4 linked regions of the Homo sapiens genome follow. The protein of the gene in region 1 purifies or fractionates together with the protein of each later gene. This does not show direct contact. Each region holds a gene or a part of one and is shown in the gene's direction. Other genes may lie near its edges.

The links. Proteins that work in one complex are often made in the same cells at the same time.
Region 2: the proteins of METTL9 (region 1) and CD226 purify together in Homo sapiens (co-immunoprecipitation; one large-scale study listed by IntAct). This does not show direct contact.
Region 3: the proteins of METTL9 (region 1) and SLC39A6 purify together in Homo sapiens (co-immunoprecipitation; one large-scale study listed by IntAct). This does not show direct contact.
Region 4: the proteins of METTL9 (region 1) and MGAT1 purify together in Homo sapiens (co-immunoprecipitation; one large-scale study listed by IntAct). This does not show direct contact.

The regions. Positions count from the first base shown.
Region 1 is NC_000016.10:21,612,494-21,617,399, forward strand, and holds part of METTL9 (protein-L-histidine N-pros-methyltransferase isoform 1 precursor), read left to right. Parts: intron 1-151; coding exon 152-342; intron 343-4,906. UniProt on the Homo sapiens protein: Protein-histidine N-methyltransferase that specifically catalyzes 1-methylhistidine (pros-methylhistidine) methylation of target proteins.
Region 2 is NC_000018.10:69,937,874-69,941,373, reverse strand, and holds part of CD226 (CD226 antigen isoform a precursor), read left to right. Parts: intron 1-3,500.
Region 3 is NC_000018.10:36,126,541-36,130,778, reverse strand, and holds the start of SLC39A6 (zinc transporter ZIP6 isoform 1 precursor), read left to right. Parts: upstream 1-1,438; 5' UTR 1,439-1,665; intron 1,666-3,762; 5' UTR 3,763-3,771; coding exon 3,772-4,238. Other genes in the region: ELP2 (elongator complex protein 2), read right to left, coding at 708-845. UniProt on the Homo sapiens protein: Zinc-influx transporter which plays a role in zinc homeostasis and in the induction of epithelial-to-mesenchymal transition (EMT).
Region 4 is NC_000005.10:180,792,807-180,796,306, reverse strand, and holds part of MGAT1 (alpha-1,3-mannosyl-glycoprotein 2-beta-N-acetylglucosaminyltransferase), read left to right. Parts: intron 1-431; exon of another isoform or gene 432-1,426; intron 1,427-1,940; exon of another isoform or gene 1,941-2,040; intron 2,041-3,209; 5' UTR 3,210-3,335; coding exon 3,336-3,500. UniProt on the Homo sapiens protein: Initiates complex N-linked carbohydrate formation. Essential for the conversion of high-mannose to hybrid and complex N-glycans.

The DNA.
Region 1 (4,906 bases):
TACGAAATGATTATTCTCAGAGTATCATGAGATGGTAATATTTGGAAATCTTAGATGTGATTTAGTCTTCTGGTTTTTTGTTTTTGGATTTCTTAGGTGACACTTCGGTTGTGTGTTTTAATTTTTGTTCTTTTTTTTTTTTTTTTTTTAGTGGTATGTGTGCAACAGAGAGAAATTATGCGAATCACTCCAGGCTGTCTTTGTTCAGAGTTACCTTGATCAAGGAACACAGATCTTCTTAAACAACAGCATTGAGAAATCGGGCTGGCTATTTATCCAATTATATCATTCTTTTGTGTCATCTGTTTTTAGCCTGTTTATGTCTAGAACATCTATCAATGGGTAAGTGAATCTTGGACATTTATTTTTTTCTTTATCCTTAGGTTTACAAAAGGAAAAACACAAAAAGAAAAGTTATCTTGTTCAGCATGTTGACTACCTGAGCTACAATACTTCTACTAGTCAGAACCTTGGCAGTTGGTCCAGCGTTCTATCTTTCTGTGGTTCTGCCCTTTAAATTCACCATAACGTGACAGCCTCATTAGTATGTTTATTCATAGCGGGAGTTACTTACGGTAGTGCTTCTTGGCTTTGATGTACATAGGAATCACCTGGGGGTCTTGTTAAAATGCAGATTATGAGTTAGTACATCAGGGGCTAGGTCTGAGAGTCTGCTTTTTTTTTTTTTTTTTTTTTTTTTTTTTTTTTTTTAAAGACAGTCCTGCTCTGTTTCCCAGACTGGAGTGCAGTGGCAATCTGGGCTCACTGCAGCCTCCGCCTCCCGGGTTTAAGTAATTCTCATGCCTCAGCCTCCCAAGTAGCTGGGATTACAGGTGTGCACCACCACACCTGTCTAATTTTTGTATTTTTAGTAGAGACGAGGTTTCTATGTTGGCCAGGCTGGTCTCTAACTGACCTCAAGTGATCCATCCACCTTTGCCTCCCAAAGTGCTGGGATTATGGGTGGGAGCCACTGCACCTGGAGAGTCTGCATTTTTAACAAGCTCTTAGACGATGCCAGTGATGCTGAATGCTGCTGGTTCTGGACCACAAAGTAGCAAGACTCCTGGAACCAAGCCCTGAAGCTGAGGGCTTTACGCCCTTAGGCTGAAAAGTAAGATCTTTGCCTTAAACATACTTCGCAGTGGCAAATTTTTTTTGGGAGATATAATTAGTCAGCCCAACAGTGGATGATGGCTTATTTTGAGTGAAGAGTCCTGCATCTGTTCTTAAATAATGTCTAGGTTCACCAGAATTTTATGAACTTATTGTGGAATTCTCTGTCCCCAGAGTGGTTCCCTCATATAAATCCATAGAAAAAGCTTTAGGAGTTTTTTTTGTTTTTTTTTTTTTTCAATCCTTTCTTGGCCATGTTTTCAAGCATTCCTAAGGACCTAGAATCTAAAATGCCAAAGAGAAAAGCAACAGGCTCAATGGTTAAGAAGCCTCATTGGACCACTCAAACCACTGGTTGGGCCCACTTTTCTTTTCCCTTGAGGTTTGGAGCAGTTTCTACTGACTGACTGGATCCCCAGTGTATCATCTGGTCCTAAGTCTTCAGGCACCGCAAGCCATTTCTCAAGATTTCTCAGTTGATTTTCTTCATTGTTTATGTGAAATTGCCATACGTTTGCTTTGGCAAACAGTTGTTATTTTTATATGGGTGGTTGAGTTGATACAACTTGGTCTGACATTTTGTTCCTTAAATTGGTTATATTGAATTTCTGTTCTATACCATTTATTCTTCCTTTGGAATTCAGATGAGTCACTGTAGCAGAGATTCTTATCCTTTCTGGGGTCCTGTAGCTCTTTGAAAGTGATAAAGGTAGGAATCCTCTCTTCAAAAAGTGCTTACATTCAACATTTTGTGTATGATTTTGGGGGCTTCAAACTTTTATTTCCCCTTTCCTCTACCCATAAGACCCTGGTTAAAATTCCGTGCTCTAGAATTTCACAGTTTGATCAAAGAGGCAATGCAGTTAATAAACCCCTTTTGGCTTCCCTTACTTAAAACTCTTCTGCTTTTTCCTTCTGATACCCACCCTGCTTTCAGTCCTTCTTGCCTTGTGTCCCATTCTCAGCTAAAAACTAAATTTTAGGGCCCATCAGTACTTTCCGGTCATGGCAGTGGGAGATAATTACTACAGGTGGCCATCTCTCACAGAAATCATTACTGTAGTACTGTCTTGTATTACCTTAGGATACTTATCAAACTTCCTTTATTTTGGAAAGGAGAAGGCCAAGTAAGGAAAGACTTAGTAGATGTTCCAGAGTTTATTTTATAAGGAAGAGGTGCATCTCTCCGTAGACTCTTAAGTCTAGAGAGAACTTAGATTGTGATCAGAGAACCTAGGATGGTTATTAAACACTAAAGTTAAACCCAAATTAGAGGGTCATATCTCTTCATGGTTTGTGTTTATGGGAAACTTTGTATTGGGCTCAGTATTTTAGGTGATACTGTTTTTCATTGTGCGAGACTGCCCCCCACACTGCAGGAAGTCTAACTTTTCTGGCCTTGCCCACTAAATGGCAGTAGTACCCCCAGGTCCTTGTGATTACTGGAAACTCTCCTGTCTACTCCCATTGCCCCCTAGAGGGCAAAATCAATCCTGGTTGATAAACACTGGGCTTGATGGATTTTGATTTATTTTTTGACAGTGTTAATCTTTTTGTAGAGCCCCTGTTGCTAATGTTCTTTCGAAATAGGACAATGCTTCCCCTCTTTCTCTAGTGCCTTCTTTCTTTCTTTTTTGGAGACAGGGTCTCGCTCTGTTGCCTAGGCTGGAGTGCAGTGTCACAATCATGGCTCACTGCAGCCTTGACCTCCTCAGGCTCAGGCAGTCCTCCTGCCTCAGTCTCCCAGGTAGCTGGGACTAGAGGCTCATGCCACCGTGCCTGGCTAATTTTTGTATTTTTTATAGAGACGGGGTTTCACCATGTTGCCCAGCTGGTCTCAAACACCTGGTTTCAAGAGATCCTCCCACCTCGGCCTCCCAAAATGCTGGGATTACAGACGTGAGCCACCATGCCCAGCCTCTAGTGCCTATAAATGTAGACCAGTCAGATGAACTTGTGAGCTCTGAGCTCAGGTGACCTCTTGTTCTAGAATTTTATAATTATCATGTCAAGATTCCTCACATCCCAAGGAGATGGCTTGGGAAGCACGCTCTGGGAAAATTTAAGCAAAATAACTATTTTGTGACTTACTTTTGGTCCTGTGGCAAGTCAGCATCAGTATTTGAAATTCGCCTCCCCTCAGCCATGCTGCCAGTAGCCTCTTTCTGCTGTGACTGGTTTCTGTGTTAAATTTTGTACAGCTACTTCAGCAAGTTCAGATTTGCTTATTTTCTTACTGTAATATATGAACAATTGAGGATTAAAACAACTTGTCTTTTATGAGACGTGATTTTCTTTGGTAAGCAGTTGTAGTCGGTAGCATCACGTTTAGTGGTCTCTGAGGTCTTTCTCCAAATTTTTAGCATTTCTATGGGGGCAGAAGATTTACTGTAAACTTGGTTAAACTCTCCTATGGCCTTAATGGGAAAAGGAAGGGGGACTTTGTTACATGAACTCCATTATTTGTATTTTTTCCTAAAACTGGTCTTACCTTGGGCACCGTGTTGCATGCATCTTTCCAGTCACTGTATAGCAGCAAACATTCTGTACCTTATGATTGTTTCCAGAGAGCAGCAGTACAGAACAGGTTTCCCTGCCACTTCCTGGACCAGTGGTCCCCAAACTGTTTTCTAGGGTCTGAGGAGGAAGTGCCTCAGGAACTGCTTCAGGCTGCAGAGAAAGGCCTAGAAGTGGGCTGGCCACAGCTCCTGGGCTCCCAACCTCATTCGAACAGCAGCAGCTCTCTTAGGATCTTATGTTATCTGTGAGTTCCACTTCATTTAAAGAAAGGGTTCTGCTGCTTAAAGGAGGGTTGAGAATCCCTGTCCTAGATAAACTAGAATTTCAGAGCTAGAAAACAAGTCCTAAATAGGGATTGCGCTTTATTTCCCAGAGTGATGCTTCCATGAGACTTGGCTGGACCTATAGTTGCTTTTCTGAGGGTTCTCTTCAATCTCCAGTTAAACTCCCCTCAGTCTCTTTTTTCAAAGGCATCACTATGGTTTTGAGTGTTTTCTAGGACCTTTAGAAATAATAGGACCCAGACAGTTGTAACCATATAAACTGACATAAGTACGAATCTACTTTAATGCATATTAACCGACATCACAAGGACCACTCTTTTCCCTCTTTTCTCTAGTGTCTCTTAAAAATCTGTTATACTAAAGCTCTTTTTTCCTGATCCATGGTTTAGTTCCATATTTGAAATCACTTTTTTTTCCTATTTGGTTTCTCTGCTACTGTGGTCTGGCTGTGTTAGCTTGTCATCTTTTTCAACTGATAAACATGTTTTCTGTTACTCCTTCCACTTTTCCTTCCTATTTTGACTTAAGTTCTTCACATTCATCTCTTACTTATTTCTTCTTCCTTCCCCTGTCATCCTTTCCACTTTCCACCTTTTATTTCCCTCCTCCCATGCTTTTTTGGGGCATTATTTGCAACTCCAAAGACAAATGGTATCTGGAGGCATTTTCTTATTTTATTAACTTTGTCTTCTAATCATAGAAATGACATAAAAGATAATATCTTTGCTGGGCACGGTGGCTCATGCCTGTAATCCCAGCACTTTGGAGGCAGAGGCGGGTGGATCACGAGGGCAGGAGATCGAGACCATCCTGGCTAACATGGTGAAACCCCTTCTCTACTAAAAATCCAAAAAATTAGTCAGGTGTGGTGGCGGGCGCCTGTAGTCCCAGCTACTCAGGAGGCTGAGGCAGGAGAATGGCATGAACCTGGGAGGCGGAGCTTGCAGTGAGCAGAGATCGTGCCACTGCACTCCAGTCTGGGCGAC
Region 2 (3,500 bases), on another chromosome or scaffold:
GTGTCTGTGGCTTCTCCAGTTGCATGGTGCAAGCCGTCTGTGGATCAGATTCAGATTGTGGGGTCTGAAGGATGGTGGCCCTCTTCTCACAGCTCTACTAGACAGTGCCCCAGTGGGGATTCTGTGTGGGGGCTCCAACCCCACATTTCCCTGCTGCAGTGCCCTAGCAGAGGTCTTCCATGAGGGCTCTGCCCTTGCAGCAACTTCTGAATGGACACCCAGGTGTTTCTGTACATTTTCTGAAGTCTAGGCAGAGGTTCTCAAACCACAGTTCTTGACTTCTGTGCACCCGCAGGCCCAACACCACGTGTAAGCTGTCAAGGCTTGGGGCTTGCACCCTCTGAAGCAACAGCCTGAGCTGTATGTTGGCCCCTTTTAGCCGTGGCTGGGACATAGGGCACCATATGCAGTCCCGAGGCTGCATAGAGCAGGGGGTCTTAGGCTTGGCCCAGGAAATCACTTTTCCCTCCTAGGCTTATGATGGAAGGGGCTGCCATGAAGGTCTCTGACATGCCTTGGAGACATTTTCCCCATTGTCTTGGTGATTTACATTTGGCTCCTCATTACTTATGCAAATTTCTGCAGCTGGCTGGAATTTCTTCCCAGAAAATGTTTTTCTTTTCTGTCGCATCATCAGGCTGCAAATTTTCCAAATTTTTTATGCTCTGCTTCCTCTTGAATGCTTTGCCCCTTAGAAGTTTCTTCTGCCAGATACCCTAAATTATCTCTCTCAAGTTCAAAGTTCCACAGATCTCTGGGGCAGGGGCAAAATGCCACCAAACTCTTTGCATAGCAAGAGTGACCTTTACTCCATTTCCCAAAAAGTTCCTCATCTCCATCTGAGACCACCTCAGCCTGGACTTCATTGTTTATATCACTGTCAGCATTTTGGTCAATGTCATTCAACAAATTTCTAGGAAGTTCCCAAATTTCCCACATTTTCCTGTCTTCTTCTGAGCCCTCAAAACTGTTCCAACCTCTACCTGTTACCCAGTTCCAAAGTTGCTTTCACACTTGTGGATATCTTTACAGCAACCCTCCACTCTCTGCTGTACTCATTTACTGTATTACTCAGTTTTCATGCTGCTAATAAAGACATACCTGAGACAGGGTAATTTATAAAGGAAAGAGGTTTAATTGATTCTCAGTTCAGTATGGGTGGGGAGGCCTCAGGAAACTTACAATCATGGTGGAAGGGGAAGCAAATATGTCCTTCACATGGTAGCAGGGAGAAGAAGAGTGAGTGCCCAGAGCAGGGGAAGCCCCTTATAAAACCATCAGATCTCATGAGAACTAACTCACTATCATGAGAACAGGATGGGGGAAACCACCCCCATGATTCAGTTATCTCCACCTGGTCTCTCCCACGACACGTGAGGGTTATGGGAACTACAACTCAAGATGAGATTTGGGTGGGCACACGGCCAAATTATATCATATGATCATGGAGACTGATAAGCCCAAATTTGCAGTGTGGGCTTGCAGGCTGCAGACCCAGGAGAGCCGATGGTACAGGTGAAGCCCAGGTCATCTGCTGCAGAATCCCTCTTGCTTGGGGAGGCTGGTCTTTTTGTTGAATTAGGCTCACCTACATTATGGAGGCAAACTGCTTATTCAAAATTCACCAATTTAAATGTTAATCTCATCCCAAAACACCCTTCAAATTGACACGTAAAATTAACCATCATACCTGTTTTGGAAAATGATATGGCATTAGCTAGTTAAAAACCCCAAATCCTATGATCCAATAATTCTACTCTGTTTGGTATCCAAGAGTTCTCTCATTATAGGGAAAATTCCTGACAATATTTATAGCAACAGTGATTGCAATAGCAAAAAATTGGTAACAACCCAAATACCCATCAACAGTAGAACCGAAAAGCACACTGAGGTCTATTCACACATTAGGATACTCTACATCACTAAAATGAGTGAATTATCACTTGCTCACCGACATGGATGAAGCTCATGAACTTTGTGTTGAAAGAAAAGAGCAAGTTACCAAAAAAAATAGGTAAACTAGGGTTCCTTTTCTTTAAAGGTTTTAGAAATATGCATAATTAAACAATACGTTATTTATAGATACAAACGTGGTAAAACTATAAAGAAAAGCAAAGTTCAGAAACATGGTAGGTGGGGGATAGAATAGAATCAGGAAGGGCTGAAAGGGTCTTTAAGGCTCATAGTCAGGGTGTTTTCCTTATACAGGTGTTTTATTTTGCATTTGTCTCAAAATGTTTTAGAAGATTTCTTTCAAATCTACTGATTTCTTTTTCTTTTCCTTTTTTGAGACAGAGTCTCACTCTGTTGCCCAGGCTGGAGTGCAGTGGCATGATCTCAGCTCATTGCAACCTCTGCCTCCTGGGTTCAAGTGGTTCTCCTGCCTCAGCCTCCTGAGTAGCTGGGATTACAGGCCTGCATCATCACACCCAGCTAATTTTTGTATTTTTGTAGAGATGGGGGTTTTGCCATGTTGGCCAGGCTGATCTCAAACTCCTGACCTCAGGTGATCCACCCCACCTTGGCCTCCCAAAGTGCTGGAATTACAGGCATAGGCCACCTTGCCTGGCCAAATCTACTGATTTCTAATGGTGAAAAGAGATGTGATTGCAATTTTTGAGCAGTTGAAAGCTCTAAGGTAAGGATGAAATCTTCATTCTGATATGGCCTGGGGGCCAGGTAGAGGTAAGTTTCAGCAATGGTTTCAAATTTTTATGATCCAAGGACTAAAAAATGATGATTTTAGTGAAAAAGATGTGAAATTAAGAGACCAACTTGGCTAGCAAGAGTGGAATTAAGTCTGTTTCAGGTGTATTAAATTGTAAAGTAGCCTTTGACCAGCTGACAATTGAAATTATGGAACAACAAACCAGGATTGAAAATATCCAATTTGAAGTCATCTGAATGATCATCCAGCACATGTGGATGGATGGGGTTAACTAAGAAAGTACCAATGGATGGGGGCAGAAGTCTAAGGTCATAGCTTGTGGCTTGGAGGATGGTCACATTGTAGTGTGTTAAAGAAGGTGTTCATGTTAAAGAATGTAGAGGGCATAGAGAAAAGAGGGGGAGAGTTGGGAGGGAGAGGAAAGTGAACAGGTGAATTATTGATGTGAGAGCAGAAGACACATAGAACTCATATTTATAGTAGAGGGTTAGATTTTCTTGCTCCACACATGCAGGTACTTTGTGTTGGCTGTATTGTATGTTTGCTGACTCTGTGATCTCCCATATTCCAGTCCATTTATCTCAAACTGGGCACAGAGATGTTCCTCACTGTTTCCCTTTAAGAGTCTCATTCTCTCCCAGGTGGGATGAGGCTCCTTATATGCCATCCATGCTCATTCTTAGAAGGCTCTTATCTCTACACCCTTCAGGGACAAGTGTTCTCTGTCCAGGTTCCCAGCAGCTGACATAGCAGCCAAAGTTTTCTTTCATTCTTGTATATATCTGCTGGTTAGTGGCACTAAAGAGATTCCTTTAATATTAAGGGCTCCAGA
Region 3 (4,238 bases), on another chromosome or scaffold:
TCCTTTTGAGATGCAAGACTAACTGTATAGACCAACTTAGCCATTGGGAATGGAGTTATAATGAATTCCGGGGAGCATGCAAAAACTATTCACTTGAGAAATATGGTGAGGAAAGCACCAAGAAAATAACCAACTGACTGGGTGAAGTCGAGGGAAGTCCCGCCTTATAATCAGTGCTTAGGATCCCCATCCCCTATGACCTTTCCCCCAAACTGACACTTTCTCTAAAATGTCCATTCCCGTAGCTAAAACACAGGTAACATTTCCTTGAAATTCAATACAACAAAAGTTCATTAACCAAAACTGAAGGAAATACTGAAATGAGATTGCACCTGTGGGATGATGGTTTTAATCTACATATAAATTTCAATTGTTTTAAAACCCAAATTGATTAACGGTACTACAGTTCCCAAGGAAGGCTTCAGGTAAGATGCTTATCATTCGGGTTTCTGCGTGGGACTAACAGGTTACTAGCAGCTCATGGGCAGCAATGACCCTAGGATGACGCCACGCGTGAGACGGCAAAGGGTGAGGGGTGAGGAGCGAGTCCGGCAGGTCCACTGGAGACTCCGAGCCCAAACCCCGCTCCCCTGAGCCGACCCGACTCGCCTCCTAGGTCTGGGGCGGCAACTAACAGCGCGCCCGGAGCACGTCCACAGGTTCAACCCGAAAAGCACAAGGGTCGGCCGTCCAGCGACCTCTCTTACCAGGGGGTCATAGAGCACCACGGAGCAGGACGTGCCAAAGGCCAGAAGTCCTCTGGGCCCAGAGCTCCAGTTCAGGACTCCCCGCACCCGGTTTGGGCAGCAAAACACGTGAGAAGTCTCCAGCACGGGTGCCACCATGTCGCCAACTGGTCAGCCGCACAAACAAGAGACGCGCACTTCCGCCCTCGGAGCGGAACTACTAGGGTGGTTTCTCCTGAGGCATCACCCAGTCCACGTTTCGCAGCCAGCCGAGGGCCAGACGGAGGCAGCCCCGCCCCCCTGAGACTCTCCGTTCCCACCGCAGGCTGGAACCCCTGTGCAAGGCCGCCGCTTTGCTAGCTCTGCTCTTGGACCGTGGCCCCGCTCCGCGAACGAGCCAGGCCTTTGTCTCAAGAGCGAAATCCGACCCGAGTGGCTCGGGACCCTCCCGAAGGACCCGGGGCTCATGTGCCTGGGGCAGCGTCAGAAACATCTCGCTGCCCCTTACGACCCGGCTCCCAGCAGCAGCCAGGGCTGGCCCCGGGGGCGCTGGCTAGCGAGTAGGGCCTCGAGGAAATGACCCCCAACTGCTTACAATGCGCTAGGGCCGCGCCACGCCCCCGCGGCGTCGGCGAACACACGGAAAAGCGGATCCGTCTGCGGAGCCGGGTTCCGGGGTCGCACTGCGCATGCCCTGCAGTCCTGGGCGAAGGGGGCGGTGGTTCCCCGCGGCGCTGCGCGCGGCGGTAATTAGTGATTGTCTTCCAGCTTCGCGAAGGCTAGGGGCGCGGCTGCCGGGTGGCTGCGCGGCGCTGCCCCCGGACCGAGGGGCAGCCAACCCAATGAAACCACCGCGTGTTCGCGCCTGGTAGAGATTTCTCGAAGACACCAGTGGGCCCGTTCCGAGCCCTCTGGACCGCCCGTGTGGAACCAAACCTGCGCGCGTGGCCGGGCCGTGGGACAACGAGGCCGCGGAGACGTGAGTCTTTCAGGTCCGGGAGCAGGGCGGCTGGGAGGGGAGCTCCTCAGGCCAGACAGGCGTGGCGGGGTAGGGGTGGTTCTGCGGAGAACCGGATCCTGCGGACCGGGCAGGGGGGCTACAGAAAGAGGATGCTGGGGGGAGCCCGCCGCAGGCGCCCACTCACCCTAGAGAGCCGGACTTCTTAAGGTGCTCAGATGGGCTTCGGGGTGCAACGGAGGATTTTTTGAGGAAAAGATCCGTACTTTTCATCCCATATTCGAAGAAGGGACTGACGTGTTTAGAAATAAAAAGCTTTTAGAAGAGAGCTTTGTGCCCTCTTTTCCGTTTTCTGTACTCGCCTTTTTCTCTAAGGCCCTTCCCTTCTGCTTTCCTTTTTCCTCCAGCACACACCAACTTGCAGGAAAGGAGATCCTTCAACGGGTCCACGACCGCGCTCAGCATCCTCCCTGGAGAAAGGCTCGGAGCTGTCCCCTGTGCTAGTCCCCTCCCACCCCGCTCCTCGCCTCTCTCCTGGGAATGATTTCTAAATGTTTATCTTTTACCTAGTAAAAGAATTCCCGAAACTTCAAGCCCCAAAGATTCCTCTTTCAGGAGCCTCGTTCTACGCCGTACCTCCATTTCCCACTGTTCCCTGTATGATACCTCGCACTTGTGCAACACATGAGTTTAACGAGTACTTGTAATATACATTCCTTCATGTGTTTTCCTCCTTCGCCTTGCAAAATAGGTTTTACCGGTATTTTAGATAAGGTAATGAATGCGAGAGCCCTGTCCAAAGAACAGCTGACCGTGGTAGAGCTGGATAGCCCCATGCTCTTGCTTAGTTGTAAACTTGACGTCTGCGTCTTTTGCTGGAGATGTGAGTTTGACCACCATCACCTCCACCGTTGGTGCTGGACATCCTGCTGGATCTGAATTAACTGAATTCTGGCTCTGCTTAACTGAATTCTGCTTTTCAAGCTCCAACTCAATTGCTTCCTCCTCTTTGGGGCACAGGCCTTTGGTTCCAAACACTACTGTGGATGATTAACAGCCTGTGATTAAATGTTGACTGGTTTGTAGTAACACAAGGATGCTACAGTGAGTTTTTCATGAAGTTCAGTTTACTTTAAGAATTCTATGTATGGACATAATGTGTCTGATTCATTGTCAAGTCGGAAAAAAGATTCAATGTGTATTTAAAGTATACACTTATTTGAGGCTGGGCGTAGTGGTCACGCCTGTAATCCCAGCACTTTGGGAATTGGAGGTGGAGGATCTCTTGAGGCCAGGAGTTCAAGACCAACCCGGACAACATAGTGAGACCTCGTCTCTAGAAAAAAAAAAAAAAAACTTTAAAAAAAAAATTAAGTATACATGTATTTGAGTATGCATAGAAAATATCCTGAGGGATACACTGGCAAAATTGAGCACCTTTGAGGATTGTGATTGGGGAAAGGGGTCTTAAATGGGCTTGTATGTAAGGAGAGTGTATTAGTTTAAAATTTTTTAAATATGTGAATTCTGAGATTATTATTTCTATTTTTTGGTGTTTGAAGGTTATTTTATGAAATGATGGTGATGATCAAGGTAGCTAGATTTCATTTCGTTCTTTTTTTTTTTTGAGACAGGGTTTCACAATGTTGCCCAGGCTGGTCACAAACTCCTGGCCTCAGGTGATCTGCCTGCCTCAGCCTCCCAAAGTGCTGGGATTATAGGCATGAGCCACCACACCCAGCCTAGATTTAATTATGAATCATTGGCCTCAATGATTCAAATAATCGTTCAAATAAATTCTCAACTTCAGTAAGCAGTTGATGGCTGTGGCCACATGGATCTCCCTTGTCTCTGAATTACTATTGCTTTTACAGTGCTAATGGCAGTCTCTTAGCACTCAGCTCTTCTCCAGTTGTTTCATGTGTTTTAGGAATGCAAGGGTAGAGCCTAGGACTCTAGTTCTTTCCATCTTCACAGTACCTAGCGTCACACTGGTCACACCACATGATGCTCTGGCAACTTTGATTATTTGATTACACATTAATTTTCAGTATGAGGTTTCTTAATTCAATTTGTTTTAGAAGTGAGTCAAGAATTTTTTTTTCCTGTCTTTTCTAGGAAGGCGCAATGGCGAGGAAGTTATCTGTAATCTTGATCCTGACCTTTGCCCTCTCTGTCACAAATCCCCTTCATGAACTAAAAGCAGCTGCTTTCCCCCAGACCACTGAGAAAATTAGTCCGAATTGGGAATCTGGCATTAATGTTGACTTGGCAATTTCCACACGGCAATATCATCTACAACAGCTTTTCTACCGCTATGGAGAAAATAATTCTTTGTCAGTTGAAGGGTTCAGAAAATTACTTCAAAATATAGGCATAGATAAGATTAAAAGAATCCATATACACCATGACCACGACCATCACTCAGACCACGAGCATCACTCAGACCATGAGCGTCACTCAGACCATGAGCATCACTCAGAGCACGAGCATCACTCTGACCATGATCATCACTCTCACCATAATCATGCTGCTTCTGGTAAAAATAAGCGAAAAGCTCTTTGCCCAGACCATGACTCAGATAGTTCAGGTAA
Region 4 (3,500 bases), on another chromosome or scaffold:
TAGGAAGAAGACAAGTGGTTGGTGGTGAATGCTGGCAGGGGCTGGTGAAGTCTCCCCAGGAGGGAGACAGAATCCATGTCTCTTTAGAGGCCCTTCAGGATCAGCCCTTTTATACCAGATCTGCTGGTTTGAGAGCCCAGAGCCTCAGAGGTTAGATCTGAGGCCCAAGGTTTTGGCCAGGATTAGAGAGTAGCCTGTGAGGCAGAGGGCAACTGGCAGAGCTGTTGGTGTAAGAGGGTGCACGCCTGAAGCTTTGGGGTGTAAAGGGTAGACCAGAGGCAGGACAGTCAAGGAGTTATGGTCTGGAGTGGCAGCTGGCTGGGAATTGGGGAGTGTTTCAGATCCTTTCAAGTAATGTGGTCTGGTAGAGCTTGGAGGATTGGTGGGACCATGCCTTTTTCTCACTGGTTTGTGTCCTGGTTCCTTCCCAGAGCCTGGCAGAGAGCAGGTGTGTGATACACGTCGTCAGGTGACTGACCGAGGAATTCAGGGCAAACAGATCATCTCAATTTGCCTTGCTGATGTGCCAGCTGGGATTACGCTGATGGATGAAGCTCTTCAGAGCTATGGGCAATATCTACATATTTGATTGTCAAGAAACTTCGTGTGGAAATAGCTTCAAACTTACACAAATTGCAAGAATAAAAAATAGTATAAGGATATTCGTACACACTCTCTTTACTCAGATTCACCTGTTAATATTTTGCTCCATTTGCTCTCTATGTGTGCAGAGTATGTTTTTGTTCTGAACCATTTGAGAAGTTGCATCTATCCTGGTCCTCTACTTCTCAATACTTCAGTGTGTATTACCTAAGAATTGGAATTAATCAGTTATCACTGATACTTTAACCTACTGTCCATATTCCACCTTTGTCATTTTACCCAATAACGTCTTTTTAAAAAAAGTTTTTTGAGGTTTCATTGACATACAATTGATATCAATATGTGCAAAGAACTGCATATAAAGTGTACAATTTGATAAGTTTTGACATATATGTGTGTGTGTGTATATATATATATATATATATACCTGTAAAAGTATCACCACAATCAAGATAATAAACATATCCACCCTTCTAGAAGCTTCCTAATGCCCCTGTGTAGTAACTACCCTACTGCCCTTCTCTGCCTCCATCCCCAGGCAACAACTGATCTGCTTTCTGTAATATAGATTAGTTTCTATTTTCGGCAGTTTTATGTCAATGGAATCACAGTGTATGTGCTCTTTTTTGTTTTTCCCAAAAAGACCCATATTGTGTAATTATTTGGAGATTGTGTTGTGTATGTCAGTGGTTTATTCAGTTTTATTGCTGAATATTATTCCATTCTATGAGTAAACCACAATTTGTTTATCTGTATTTCCCTGTTGATGGGCCTTTGGGTTATTTCCAGTTTTGAGTGATTATGAATAAAGTTACCATCAACACTCCTGTGTAGGTTTTTGTAGGGACATGGCTGAAAGTAGAAAGAAATGGGGCATGCAGGAGAGACTGGGCTTGGTTATAACAGCCTGTTATCCCTGGGGAACTAGCTCACTCACCAGAGGACGTTAGGAAGGATCTGCCCCTGCCCCCCTTGTGATCCAAACACCTACCACTAGACCCCACCTCCGGCAGCACCACCACACAGGGGATCAAATCCCAACATGTGTTTCAGAGAACAAACCATATTCAAGCTATAGCATAGCTACGTAATTATTATAACACTATTAATAAGACCATCTTTGCCTTGGGAATTTTAAGTAGCACCTTTATTACATATTAGATTTTTTTGTGTAATGAGTCTGTTTCTGGAGCTTAAATTCTATTTCACTGGATGGTCTGTTTATTTATGTACCAGTACCACGCAGTTGTAATTATGGAGGTTTTGTAGTATGCCATATATATATATATATAATAAAAAAAAATTTTTTTGAGACAGAGTCTCACTCTCTTGCCCAGGCTGGAGTGCAATGGCACAATCCAATCACAGCTCACTACAGCCTCAGCCTCCCAGACTCAGGTGATCCCATCTCAGCCTCCTGAGTAGCTGGGACCACAGGTGCGTGCCACCATGCCCAGCTTTTTTTTTTTTTTTTTTTAATTGTTACTTGTAGAGACAGGGTCTCCGTGTGCTGCCCAGGCTATTCTTGAACTCCTGGGCTCAAGTGATCCTCCTGTATTGGCCTCCCAAAGTGCTGGGATTGCAGGTAGGAGCTACTGCATCTGGCCAGTATGCAGTATTTTCATATCTGGTAGGGCTGAGTCCCTCCTCACAGCTTATTTTTATTGTTTTCCTAGTTTTTCATGTGAACTTTACTGTCAGTTCGTCTAGCTCCATAAAAAGGTATTTTTATTGGGATTTTTGATGATGCTGAAATGTCCTGACCAAGAACAAGGGATATTCAGATGTTCTTTTGTGTCTTTCAGGAATGATAGTTTTGTTCACATAAGTTTTGAATGTTTAAGTTTATTTAAGTTTATTTCTAAATATTTTCTCATTTCTCTGGCTTTTGTAAGTAGGGTTTTCTCATCCATGTTTTCTTCTCATGAGTTATTTGTGGATATGAAGGCTATCCATTAGTATATGTTGATTTTTATATTACACTTCCTTGCTCAGTTCATTATTGATTCTTTTTGAGTTTTCCAGGCATATTCTCACAAGTAAAGATAATAGAAATAGTTTGCTTCCTTTCCACTTCTGCTTTGAATTTTTTTTTCTTGGTTCATTTGCATTGGCTGCTTCCTCCAGCAAAATGTTAAATAACCCTGGAGATGATGGGCAACTTCGTTTTGCTCCTGACATTCGTGGGGTGCCTCTGGTGCTTCCCTGTTGGTAAGGGGTTAACTGTAGCCCTGAGGTGGGACATTTGATTTTAAAAATCAGTCATCTTGGGGCGCTTAGGTTAGAGGAATGGTAGGCAGATGCTGTCACTCCTTGCCCCTCCCCTCCTCCTTCCCACCTGGAGGGGAAATGAAATCTGACAGGTAGAAAGAGGGGAGTTGGGGTTCTTTTTCTCTCTCCCTCCACCAGCATCACTCTCTGCCTCTCCCTCAAAAATACGTTCCTGGGTCAGGATATATGTTGACTCCCTAGAGAGCTCTGGAGTCAACCTCCTGGCCTTCCTCCACCCTCACTCTTGGCCTTTTCCTGCCCCCATTTCCTCTACCTGTGGGGCATGGAGCCACGAGCCTTTGTGTGACGGTTTGCTTTCTCTCTCCTGTCTTTAGGTGCATGGCTGCCTCCTAATCCCATAGTCCAGAGGAGGCATCCCTAGGACTGCGGGCAAGGGAGCCGGGCAAGCCCAGGGCAGCCTTGAACCGTCCCCTGGCCTGCCCTCCCCGGTGGGGGCCAGGATGCTGAAGAAGCAGTCTGCAGGGCTTGTGCTGTGGGGCGCTATCCTCTTTGTGGCCTGGAATGCCCTGCTGCTCCTCTTCTTCTGGACGCGCCCAGCACCTGGCAGGCCACCCTCAGTCAGCGCTCTCGATGGCGACCCCGCCAGCCTCACCCGGGAAGTGATT